Regions from separate parts of the Homo sapiens genome. Here region 1 is linked to region 2. Evidence: fine-mapped expression QTL. A gene starts in region 2. The other region holds a variant in brackets. All regions are shown on one strand. Distances are from middle to middle. Region 1 overlaps GRHL1 (grainyhead like transcription factor 1). Region 2 holds the start of GRHL1 (grainyhead like transcription factor 1).

Region 1 (5,371 bases), 27 kb before region 2:
TGTTTGTAATTGAGTATTTCCACTTTCCGCATAAGCGACTTCCTGGCAAGACATCCAGTGTGTGCTGTGCCCATGTGTCACTCGCCTGTGGAAACACACTGTCCCTATCAGCCCAGCCCACACTCATGGAGGGGACCAGGTAAGTTCTGAGGGAGAAGTGCAGCTTCCGGGGAGCTTTATGGTCAGGAGGGTGGCCTTCTTTAGTCTGCAACTGAACAGTTTTGTTTAATGTTAAAAAGCTGCTGGCATACACATATGGCGAGTGTAGAAACACAAGCCAGAGCTCTCCCTTGGGTCCAGTGGGAGCAACAAGATGGGCACACTTTGTTCCTCAGTTTTAACACTTCCCATGGATTCTACCTAATGGGCAGCCCCGAGTGAGCAAGACCACAGGGCTGTTCACCCAAATCCAGGTAAAACCAGGCTCGGACCATTCCTATCCTGCAGACAAATTATCACTGTGATTACAGAAAACACTCCACTATCTTTACAGAGGATGGGAAAGAGGTAAAAAGTAAGATGAATGAGCACACATCCAACTCCTCCTCTATAAAACATACAGGAATGCACGCACACTTAAAAAGCCCCATTTCAGAATCGGAGTAGGCTGAATGATTTACAACCTTCCTTCTCTAGAAAGATGTGAAGATCTCTGACATAAAACTTTAAGAATTCAAAAGATGACCTTTTCTGTTTTCATACTTCCTTCCCAATTATTTTGAGAGAAAACATTTGTATTCAAATAATTAGAACATTAATCTCAAAAGATGAGCAACTACTATTCCCACCCAAATTATTGGAAGAGAAAAAAACTAACCACAAACATAAACTGCTGAACAGGCCAAGGTGCTCTACAAGATTCCTTTTTAAATGTCTAGCCCATTTTTCTAAGGACAGTTCCTCATTCCTGACCAAGAATTTATGCACTTAGAATGTTTCAAAATATTTAATTCTTTTTTTTTTTTTGGTTTTCAAACCTCAGTTTGAAAATGAGAGGAAAACAAAATAAAATGATTTACATAATCAAAGGATTAACTGATACAGACTTTTATTCTAAATGCTCACAAGCACAGAAACCAACAAGAAATCAGATCTTGAACGAATTTATAATGATTCTTCCAGGAAGCACCGCGGCAGCCACATAAGCGCTGTTCACACCTGGCTGCGTCTGCCAAGTTAGTCCTCAAAGAGAAAACAAGGAGGAAAAAGACAAAAAAAAAACAAACCACCAAACCCAGTGTGCTCAAAACACAGATCACCATCAGAGGTTCATTTCACAGCAGGTATAGGGAAAGTAACTGAGAATCAATTTTATAAAACCCCCAACACACCCACTCCTTTCGAGCTTTTATCAACACCACAAACCAAGACACAATTCCAGTAAAGCTTGCTAACTGTCTAGTCTAAAGAGAGTAGTCAGGAACGTGAACTTTAACAAGTGAATTTAATTTGTGGAGAGAAATTATAGAAATATTTTTAAATCTCCTAATTCACAGAAAAGAATGCATGAACAAAGCACTTGGAGTCCATGAGTCAAAAGTTACAAAAACATCAAGTGGTGAAGTTAGGAGCTAAGGGATGCAAATGTTTAATACATATCAGGGTATTTTTCATGAACTAGCAAAAAGGCTGTTGCTCTTTAAAAATTACCACAATGACAGTAATACTCATTCTGTATTATCATTCACCTATAAGAAAATAATCCAACATCCAAATATTAGTCTTAATTTTTTTTTCCACTGAGAAATTTAGGTAGAATTTTACATGGTTTTGTAACGTTGCTGCTATAATGCTGAAAATAATTTCCATAAGACTTTCATAATATAGTTTGCTCAACTGAGTAGAATAAAACAATTTCAAAATTTGAGCACTGGCCAGGCAGTGGCTCACACCTGTATGTGGGAGGATTGCTTGAGTCCAGGAGTTTGAGACCACCCTGGGCAACATAGCGAGACCCTGTCTCTAAAACAGAAAATAAAATAAATTAGCTGGGCATGGTGGTGTGCACCTGTAGTCCCAGCTACTTGGGAGGCCAAGGCGGGAGTATGGCTTGAGCCTAGGAGGTAGAGGCTGCAGTGAGCTGTGTCATGCCACTGCACTCCAGCCTGGGCAACAGAGTGAGACCCTGTCTTTAGAGTAAAAAAAAAAAAAAGATTGAACATTTAGATCCATTAAGACTAATATGAAGCAACTTTATGACAGTTTGGATAAGGTTTCCTTTTTTTTTTTTTTTTGAGAGAGAGTCTTGCCCAGGCTGGAATGCAGTGGCGCGATCTCGGCTCACTGCAACCTCCACCTCCCGGGTTCAAGCGATTCTCGTGCCTCAGCCTCCTGAGTAGCTAGGATTACAGGCGCGCACCACTACATCTGGCTAATTTTTGAATTTT[G/T]TTTTTTGAGAGGGAGTTTTGCACTTGTTGCCTAGGCTGGAGTGCAATGGCGCGATCTCAGCTCACTGAAACCTCCGCCTCCCGGGTTGAAGTGATTCTCCTGCCTCAGCCTCCCATGTAGCTGGGATTACAGGTGCCCGTCACCACACATGGCTAATCTTTGTATTTTTAGTAGAGACGGGGCGTCACCATGTTGGCCAGGCTGGTCTCAAACTCCTGACCTCAGGTGATCCATCTGCCTCGGCCTCCCAAAGTGCTGGGATTACAGGCATGAGCCACCATGCCCGGCTGGTTTCCTTTTTAAAGACCTGATTTTCAAACTAAAATAGAGTAAGTTCATAAGACCAAGTGAGATGTCACAGGTGCTCATCGAGGCAGCATCATCTCAGTGCTTGGGAAAATGAAAGAGCCTAGCTAGGAAAAACCACTAATAGCCTTCAATGGTTCTCTGCAGTGTGAAGGCAGGAATCCAAATTCTCAAGGCCTTCCAAAATCCAGCTCCAAATGTCCATTCTCGTTCACATCTCCTTTACAGGCACTTCCAAACTCTGGGGATCTTCATTTTCTCTGCCCCTGAATTTTAAAATACCCTTTCCTCCATCGTCTACTGACATACATTTCCCTTATGGATAAAGATCCAGCACCAACGGATACACCCTTTCTCATCACCATCCCCTCATCTGCCCAAAGGGAATCCCTCACACTCTCAGCTGTGTCCACTGCACTCTATGTACAGCTCCCTTTTACCACTTACCAAGTTGGACTAAGTAGCTTTTTCCTTCCCTCAAACTCCCTGTGAGGACAGATGATATGGTTTGGCTGTGTCCCCACCCAAATCTCATCTTGAATTGTAGCTCCCATAACTCCCACGTGTTGAGGGAGGGACCCTGTGGGAGATAACTGAATCATGGGGGCGATTTCCCCCATACTGTTCTCGTGGTAGTGAATAAGTCCCATGAGATCTGATGGTTTTATAAGGGGTTTCCCCTTTTGCTTGGCTCTCATTCTCTCTCGCCGGCCGCCATGGAGGACGTGGCTTTCGCCTTCCGCCATGATTTTGAGGCCTCCCCAGCCACATGGAACTGTGAGTCCATTAAATCTCTTTTTATTTATAAATTACCCAGTCTCGGGTATGTCTTTATCAGCAGCATGAAAATGGACTAATACACCAGACTATGAGATTCTTTAGGGAAATGGCCACTTCTCTATACTCTCATTGCCTCGGTCAAGGTCATCACCTGGATCAAGGACACGGAGGGCGGAGTGAGAACCTTAACATTCACCTCTGTTTAACTCCTGTCCCTGTAACACTGCAGTTAGTAAGTTCCCTAGGTCCCTTGAAGGCAGGGATGTTGTTCATTTTAAAAATTTATTCCAGCTGGATGTGGTGGCTCATGCCTGTTAATCCCAGCACTTTGGGAGGCCGAGGCGGGCGGATCACTTGAGGCCAGGAATTTGAGACCAGCCTGGCCAACATGGTGAAACCCTGTCTCTAACAAAAATATAAAAACTTAGCTGAGTGAGGTGGCGCATGCCTGTAATCCCAGTTAGTCGGGAGGCTGAGGCACGAGAATTGCTTGATCCCCGGAGGCGGAGGTTGCAGTGAGCTGAGATCATGCCACTGCACTCCAGCCTGAGTGACAGAGCAAGACTTCGTCTGAAAAAAAAAATTTCTTCCAGTGTTTATTATTATCTGTTATTAAATGGTACTGAATTAAATACTAGTAATGAGAGACAGAAAAACGATGGGCATACAAAATCTACATACTGTCTCCAAATCTTATTTCAACAAGTTTCAAATCCTCATAAAACTTATAAATACATAACAGTGCCCCCACCAAATAAACACAAACAATAAAAAGAGCTAATATAAAGTTACAGAAATTAAACATTTTCTTCCAACCTCTAGTAGAGGACCCCCTAAACAATAAAATGGCTACAAATCAGGCAATGAAATGAAAAAGAGACAGATTGCTTAATATTAGGCAATTGCCAAATATTAGTGTCACTTCAGAATCTTAATAATGTATTCCTAAACATTTGCAGTAGCTTACCACAGTCTATGTGAAAAAGACAACATTCCTTAGCATTCAAGCTATTTATGTGACTCCAATCCACCTTTCCAGCCATACTTTGTACCCCACCTGTAACAGTATTTCCCAAATGTGAATACTACACACATCCTCTTTAAAAGGCAAAAGTTGCTTCACCCCTAAAAATATACCCAGATCTGAGTCTGAGAAATGCCACTCTATTCAAATGACTGCAAAACGTCTGATCACCCAGCACCCCAAGACCTCATGTGGCCTTTATCTGGCCTCAACCCCAAACCTAAGCGCACACCCTGGCACTGACGTCTCCTGGCAGCATTTGACTCTGGTGGCATGCAGGATACGCTTCTGACTAAAAAGTCTCATCACTGACTTGAAAACACATTACACAGCCTCAAAGAACCTCCAACCCCAAGACCCTTGGGGTCACAACATTACACAGCCTCAACGAACCTCCAACCCCAAGACCCTTGGTCCACAGACCCCATGGATTGGAGACAAGCTCCTTGCGAGGGCACCCCAGGGCCTTCCTCTGCAGTCCCCACCACTCCTGGCTCAGAAGACATCAAAGGTCACAGCTCATTCTGGGTTCTGCATGCCAGCCTGGTTCCCACTATCCTTTAGGAACCCCCACCACCACCCCCGCCGAGGGTCACTTGAGAAGTGTGACGAATCTTCCTATTCCAAGTGAGGTTCCCTTCCTTCGTGTCACCTGCAACCCTACGCTTACTAGAGTGCAATCCTCCCACTGAGTTCTGAGTTTTGGGTCATGGATTACTCATCTTTCCATTCCAAGAGCATCTTGGCAGTGCCTGGCCAATAAGAAATACACGTTTCCTGGACGAATGACTCACTTTCCTGAACTCCAGCCAAATAAAACTACATGCTGCTGTGGTATTTGTGCTACTTTTATACCATTCTTTGACCCTCAAA
Region 2 (5,371 bases):
ACACACTTTTCTACTGCAAGGTATCATAAGCTACCAATTCCTTGACATTCCTATAAAATAGCCTATTGTTTCATCAATGACCCTAGGAAGTCAAATTAAGACAAGACCAGAAGACAAACCACGTAAGTGCAGACCAATGGGTCCCACAGTAAGACATAAAGTATCTAGGCAGCCAGAGAACTGGCAGTTCACCTACACGTGGAACCCAGGGTATACTATTTGGCAAAAAAGCGAAACAAAACCATCCCCGAGAAAATGCCAGGCTATTCAAATACTTTCCATAAACAAACACAAGGACACAGTAAAGAAAAGAGAATACTTGTTCTCTTCCAACACACAATCAGGACTGTCCCCTCTTGAGAAGAGCGTGTGCCGTTCATCACACTGCTACATGTTATTCCCTCTTTCTACTGTGGCTGCCATGCCTTAAAAATTCCTACCTGAACACAGTGGGGAGGGGAGAAGCAGCAGAAAGAAAAAGGGATCCTTCACGCAATCCTCCAGGGTATATGAGAAAGCCAGAATATTCTACTGATTACCAGCAGATTGAGCATGGAATGTGGCCAAAGGGGACTGTAAATCAATAAAGAGGCATAATTTTCTGGCATGGGAGTTAACTGTTTATCTTAGAGATAAACACTTAAGGATATCCAACAATAAATGAAGCCACTGAACAAAAAGTTTTAAAAAAAATAGGTGGGAAAATCTGGCTTTTAAAAAATCTTTGCTAGTTTTCCACATTGCACAAGAACTGTTTCATTTTAACACTGTAGTTTGGTGGGAAAAATCCAAAAAAATCAATGGCGATCTTAGTGAAACCTTACAGAAGATTTAATTTAAAAGATTAAAGCAAACATTACTAATTCCAAAAACTTGAAATGTAAACAGTCTCAACAACTGTTCGGTTGGTACTATTTAATAAGTCAATAAAGAGAAAAAATGGAACACTGACTCTAGCAAAACAAAGCAGTTTATTTTCAAGGAGAAAAATAAATTTTAAATGTTTGGAACTCCTCTGAATTATTACAATTCTAACAAGCAAATTGAAGGACTGGCTCTCATTGCAACACACAAATGAAATATGTAAATGGCCTAAAGGTGACCTGCCTATTTTAAAAGTGAATGTAGAAAGACTGATTATCTTTTCAAGTAATCAACAAAGGTTAGCGTTTGGGAGTCACCCAGGGCCTTTAAGAACAGATACAGATTTAGAAAAAGGAGAACATCTTCAAAAAAGGGGAAAAAAATCCAACAATGTATCCTCAGTCAAAATGAAGTGTTATTTGAAAGCCAATGTTTTTACTCACGTTTTGGCATAAACGTTACATTTGGTAAGAAAGTCTTGAGGTGGTATACTATTTTAACACAAAACAAACATAAAAGACTGTTCAAAGCCAGCAGATCATTTGTCTAAAAATGGAGAAGATTGCTTACACAAATCTCAACTTTAAAGAAAATAAAGAAATATACAAAGTGGCATTCCCTGAGCCATCAGGACCAGAGTACAACAGCTACTGAACGGCTGGTGCCATGGACTGATTGACTGATGTACTGCTAAGCTATAATTAATAGCGTAATAGCTACTTCCAGAAGACTATGACAGCACTTGGCTGTTCAATTCCCTTAATGCTAGTTTTCAACTTCCCTTCTTCTCCCACCCACATCCCAAATTTGTACAAGCAATAGAAAACAGAGAAAGAAATGGCTTTATGTTTGGAATCACCCTGAAGGTGTTTCATATTTCCAAAGCCTGCCTAAGGCCAAAATGTTAGCTTTGGAAAATTTGCCTTATCTAAACTATACGTCAAGAAATAAACACAAAACCAGTTGCCTTTCTTAGTCCACTTCCTCATGACAGTCAGGAAGTAGGCTTCAGTCGCCGAAGGCTCATCATCACTTTCAGGTGAGCCTTAAACTCCGCGTCTGCGATCTCTCAGACTTCTGAAATATGTTTCAGGCAATAATTTAACTGCATATTCTACAACATAAGAGTAATCCATTTAAGATACTCCATACAAAATATCTATCTCATCCAGAAAAAGAACACACTGACAAAAACCGATCCTTCACAAATAACTAAGAAACTGGGAGGGGTACCTATCTGCCTTAAACTTCCTGATCTGAAATATACTGACTGGCCTGGTGCGATTTCCCTGTTTTTTCTTTAGTAAGTTTTTAAAATTTTTAGGACAATTTTATATTTTCAGAAAAGCTGCAAAGAAAATACAGAAAACTCCCTCGCCCAGTTAATCCCCCATGCCTTATTACACTACCACCTCACATTTGTCGAAATACGCTTTTAAATCACACACTCTAAAAAGCATATTAGCTTGTACAGTACTTTCTCGTTTAACACCCGGATTTCAAAGTTTCATCCTCTTGATTCTCTCGAGCACTAAAAACACGGTAATCTGTAATTACCATCAATGATGCAAGTGGCAAAATAACTCCTACAGCCGTTTTCCCACTCATGCCGCCAGCCAGGGAAAAGAAAACGCCCGGACATCGGGGCACTTCAACCTTTCCCTACATTTCTGTTTTGGAGGTTCCAGCAGGTCGCCGAGTGACGAGCCTGAGACCACAGATTACCTGGAGAAGTCCACCTGTCCCGACGCGGCGCGAGCCCCACCAGGCTCCCGAGGCCGACCGGGCAGGAGAGGGGGGCGGGGAGGCCCGGGGGCGTTGGCTGCGCCCCGACCTCGCGCCGCACCCGACCGCGCCGGGGGCCCGGACCCCAAGGTGCGCGCCCGAGGGGACCCAACCTGGCCGCGGAGGAGGGGAGGAGGGTGGCCCCTCCGGTGTCGAGTTTCCCCGAGGACAGGGTCTCTCCTCCCGAGGCTCCGACCGAACAAAGAGCACGGCAGGGCTAAGGGGCAAAGGCCGTGGCGGCGTGGAGTGGACAGCGGCCCCCGGCTCGCGCCCCGCGCCCGCCCGCCCGCGCGGCCTCGGGTCTGCGCCCGGCTCGCTCGCTGCAGGTGCGGCCCCTCAGCGCGGCCCCCCCGCGGCGGCCGGACTCCTGCGCCTCACTCACTTGTCGTACTCCTGTGTCATCGCGCCCGCTCGCCGCTGCCGGGCCGCAGAACTGGACTTTCGGGTTGGGACAGTACACCCGATCCGGGGGGAGGAGGCGGCGGCGGCGGCTGCGGGTCCGGAGCGGCGGCCCCGACGGGTTGGGTTTGCTTTTCTCGCTCTGAGCCGGCTCCGCGCGGGCTGCGCGCACTGGGCGCCGGGCTCGGCCGCTCATTGGCTGGCGATGCGCCGGCTGGGGGCGAGGCCTCGGGGCTGGGAGGCCGGTCGCGCCTCCTGATTGGTCGGCGAGAAGAGCGCCGGGGCGGGGCTGACGGGGACGAGCGGCGCGGGGCGGGGGGCGGGGGCCGCGCGTTCCGCGAGGTTGCGCCCGGGACTGCGCTCCCGGGGCTGCGCGCCCGACTCGCGGCCGTACGCGCCTGCCCTGACAGGAGAGGGAGCGCTGCGGCTGCGGCGCGCACCCGCCAACCTCCGCGCGCACCGAGAGCGCCCCCGCTCGCGCCCCGCCACCGCCCCCGCCGCCCCCGCCGTCCCCGCCGTCCCCGGCCATCCCCTTCGCGACGAGCCCCGGCCGTACAGCCGCCTCCTTCTTCGCTCACTCAGGCCTCCGCGCCCCGTGCCCACATTGCCCGCTGTTCCGGCCCCAGCGCCCCGCGCTGCCCCTGCGCTCGCCCGGCGGGGGCGCCTCTGCCGGTCGCCGCGCTCCCCGGTCGCGCGTCTCACCTCTCGGTTCTCGCAGGCTGTCACGCCCGAGTCCCGTGGCTTCCCCCGAGAGCCGTCTCCGGAATGTCCCTTCTCCTGGCCCACCGCGGCCGCGCGCTTTTAGGATTTCTTGCCCTCGCAGCTCCCGCGGTCCCCTCGGCGGCAGTCCCTGGGGCTCCGCGATGTCTGTGCCCCGCAGCCTCCCGGGCGCCACTTCCCCGCGCGGCCGCCCCACGCTGCCCGTGCAGTCGCGCGCCCCGGGCCGGCCCCGGGCACCACTCCACCGCGACGGCCCCCACTTGTCCTTCCCGAGCTGCCGTCTTTCCCAGGGTCCGCTCACTGAGTCCCCACATGCCCAGCGTCGGACCTGACCCTCGGACAGGCGCGGCCCCAGACGCCGGGGACAGGGCAGTCAACAGAACAGACACAACTCCTCGCCTTCCTAGTTGGGGTAACGGGCAATACAAAAACAAGTAAATGGTGTGGCTGGTTGGAAGGTAAAGCAGGCAGGCCCTGGGGAGGCGGGGAGGAGCGAGGCTTTCAGGCTTGAAGGAGATGAGGGGCCACGAAGGTGGGACTGTACCTGAGGCAGGGACCCTGGTGTGTTTTGTGACCCTTGAGGAGACCCGGGTGGCTGGTGGGGCACAGGGAGGCGGGAGCTGCGGTCAGAGATAGTGGGCGCAGGGGAGCGGATTGAGCAGGGCCTTGCCGGCTTCCGTAAGGACTGTGGCTTTCCCTCTGGGCTAGGTGGGGACGCCTTGGAGGGGCTTGGAGCAGGGTAGTGACAGGGTCTCACATTTTAAAATAGTTCTCTGCTGCTGCGTGGTGGGGACCAGGTAGGAGGCCATTGCCATGATGCAGGCCGAGGGCAATAGAGTGAGGTGGTGGGAAGTGGCCGAATTCTGGATATGCTTTGAAGGTGGGACCAGCAGGATTGTCTGAAAATTGGATATGGGGTGTGAGAGAAAGAGAGAATCAAGGATGACTACAGCGTTTCCAGCTGGGCAACTGGAGGAATGATTTGCCATCCCCTGGGATACAGAAGACCTGGGGCATAGAAGATTTGGGGGAGAACGAGAGTCTGTTTTGGACGTGCTAAGCTCAAGATGTATGGGAGATAAAAATCCATGAATCAGGTGGGCTCCTGGGTACGAGGCTGGAGTGCAAGGGAGAAGTCTGGGCTGAAGCTCACATCTGGGCGCCGCCCACGTCTAGAGGCCATTTAAAGCCATGAGAAGGCAGGAAGGAAAGAGGATGGGACCCATGCTGGATCCAGGAGCCTCCGACACAGAAAGGCTGGGAGGAAGAGCCAGTGGAGGAGACAGAAGACGGGGACACCGAGGTCGGAAGCAATGGAAGCGTGGAAGCCAAGGGAAGGAGGTGAAGTGAGGAGCAGCATGAGGTCACAGGGCCCTCCTGCAGCCAGCAGTCCCTCCTCTGTGCCCTGGTCCAAGGCCTTCAGGGACCGGAATCGGCAGCCTCACTTGAGACCGCCCTTCGCAGTTTCTGTCCTCTGACCCCGGGCCCAGCACTGGATCCATGCAGCCTGTTGTTTGTTCTTACCACTAGTTTCCTGTTTAAATCATTTATTATTTTTTTCTTTTCCTTTTTTTTTTTTTTTTTTTTTTTGAGGCGGAATCTC

What was found. PIP is the estimated chance that this variant, and not a neighbour inherited with it, causes the effect.
Region 1: its variant is fine-mapped to the expression of GRHL1 in whole blood (INTERVAL, PIP 0.95).

The regions. Positions count from the first base shown.
Region 1 is chr2:9,976,015-9,981,385 of GRCh38, reverse strand. The region is part of intron 8 of GRHL1 (grainyhead like transcription factor 1); the gene reads right to left. Among named protein-coding and RNA genes, the nearest start is that of GRHL1, 27 kb to the right of the region's middle. The variant G/T (reference allele first, on the strand shown) is at 2,388.
Region 2 is chr2:9,949,514-9,954,884 of GRCh38, reverse strand. It overlaps GRHL1 (grainyhead like transcription factor 1), which reads right to left and starts at 3,192. Exons shown (of 16, transcript NM_198182.3): 1 at 3,032-3,192. The coding sequence starts at 3,051. It overlaps LOC105373422 (a long non-coding RNA gene), which reads left to right and starts at 4,032. Exons shown (of 3, transcript XR_922784.4): 1 at 4,032-4,180. RefSeq lists silencers at 2,902-3,441, 3,532-3,581, 3,682-3,731, 3,882-3,961.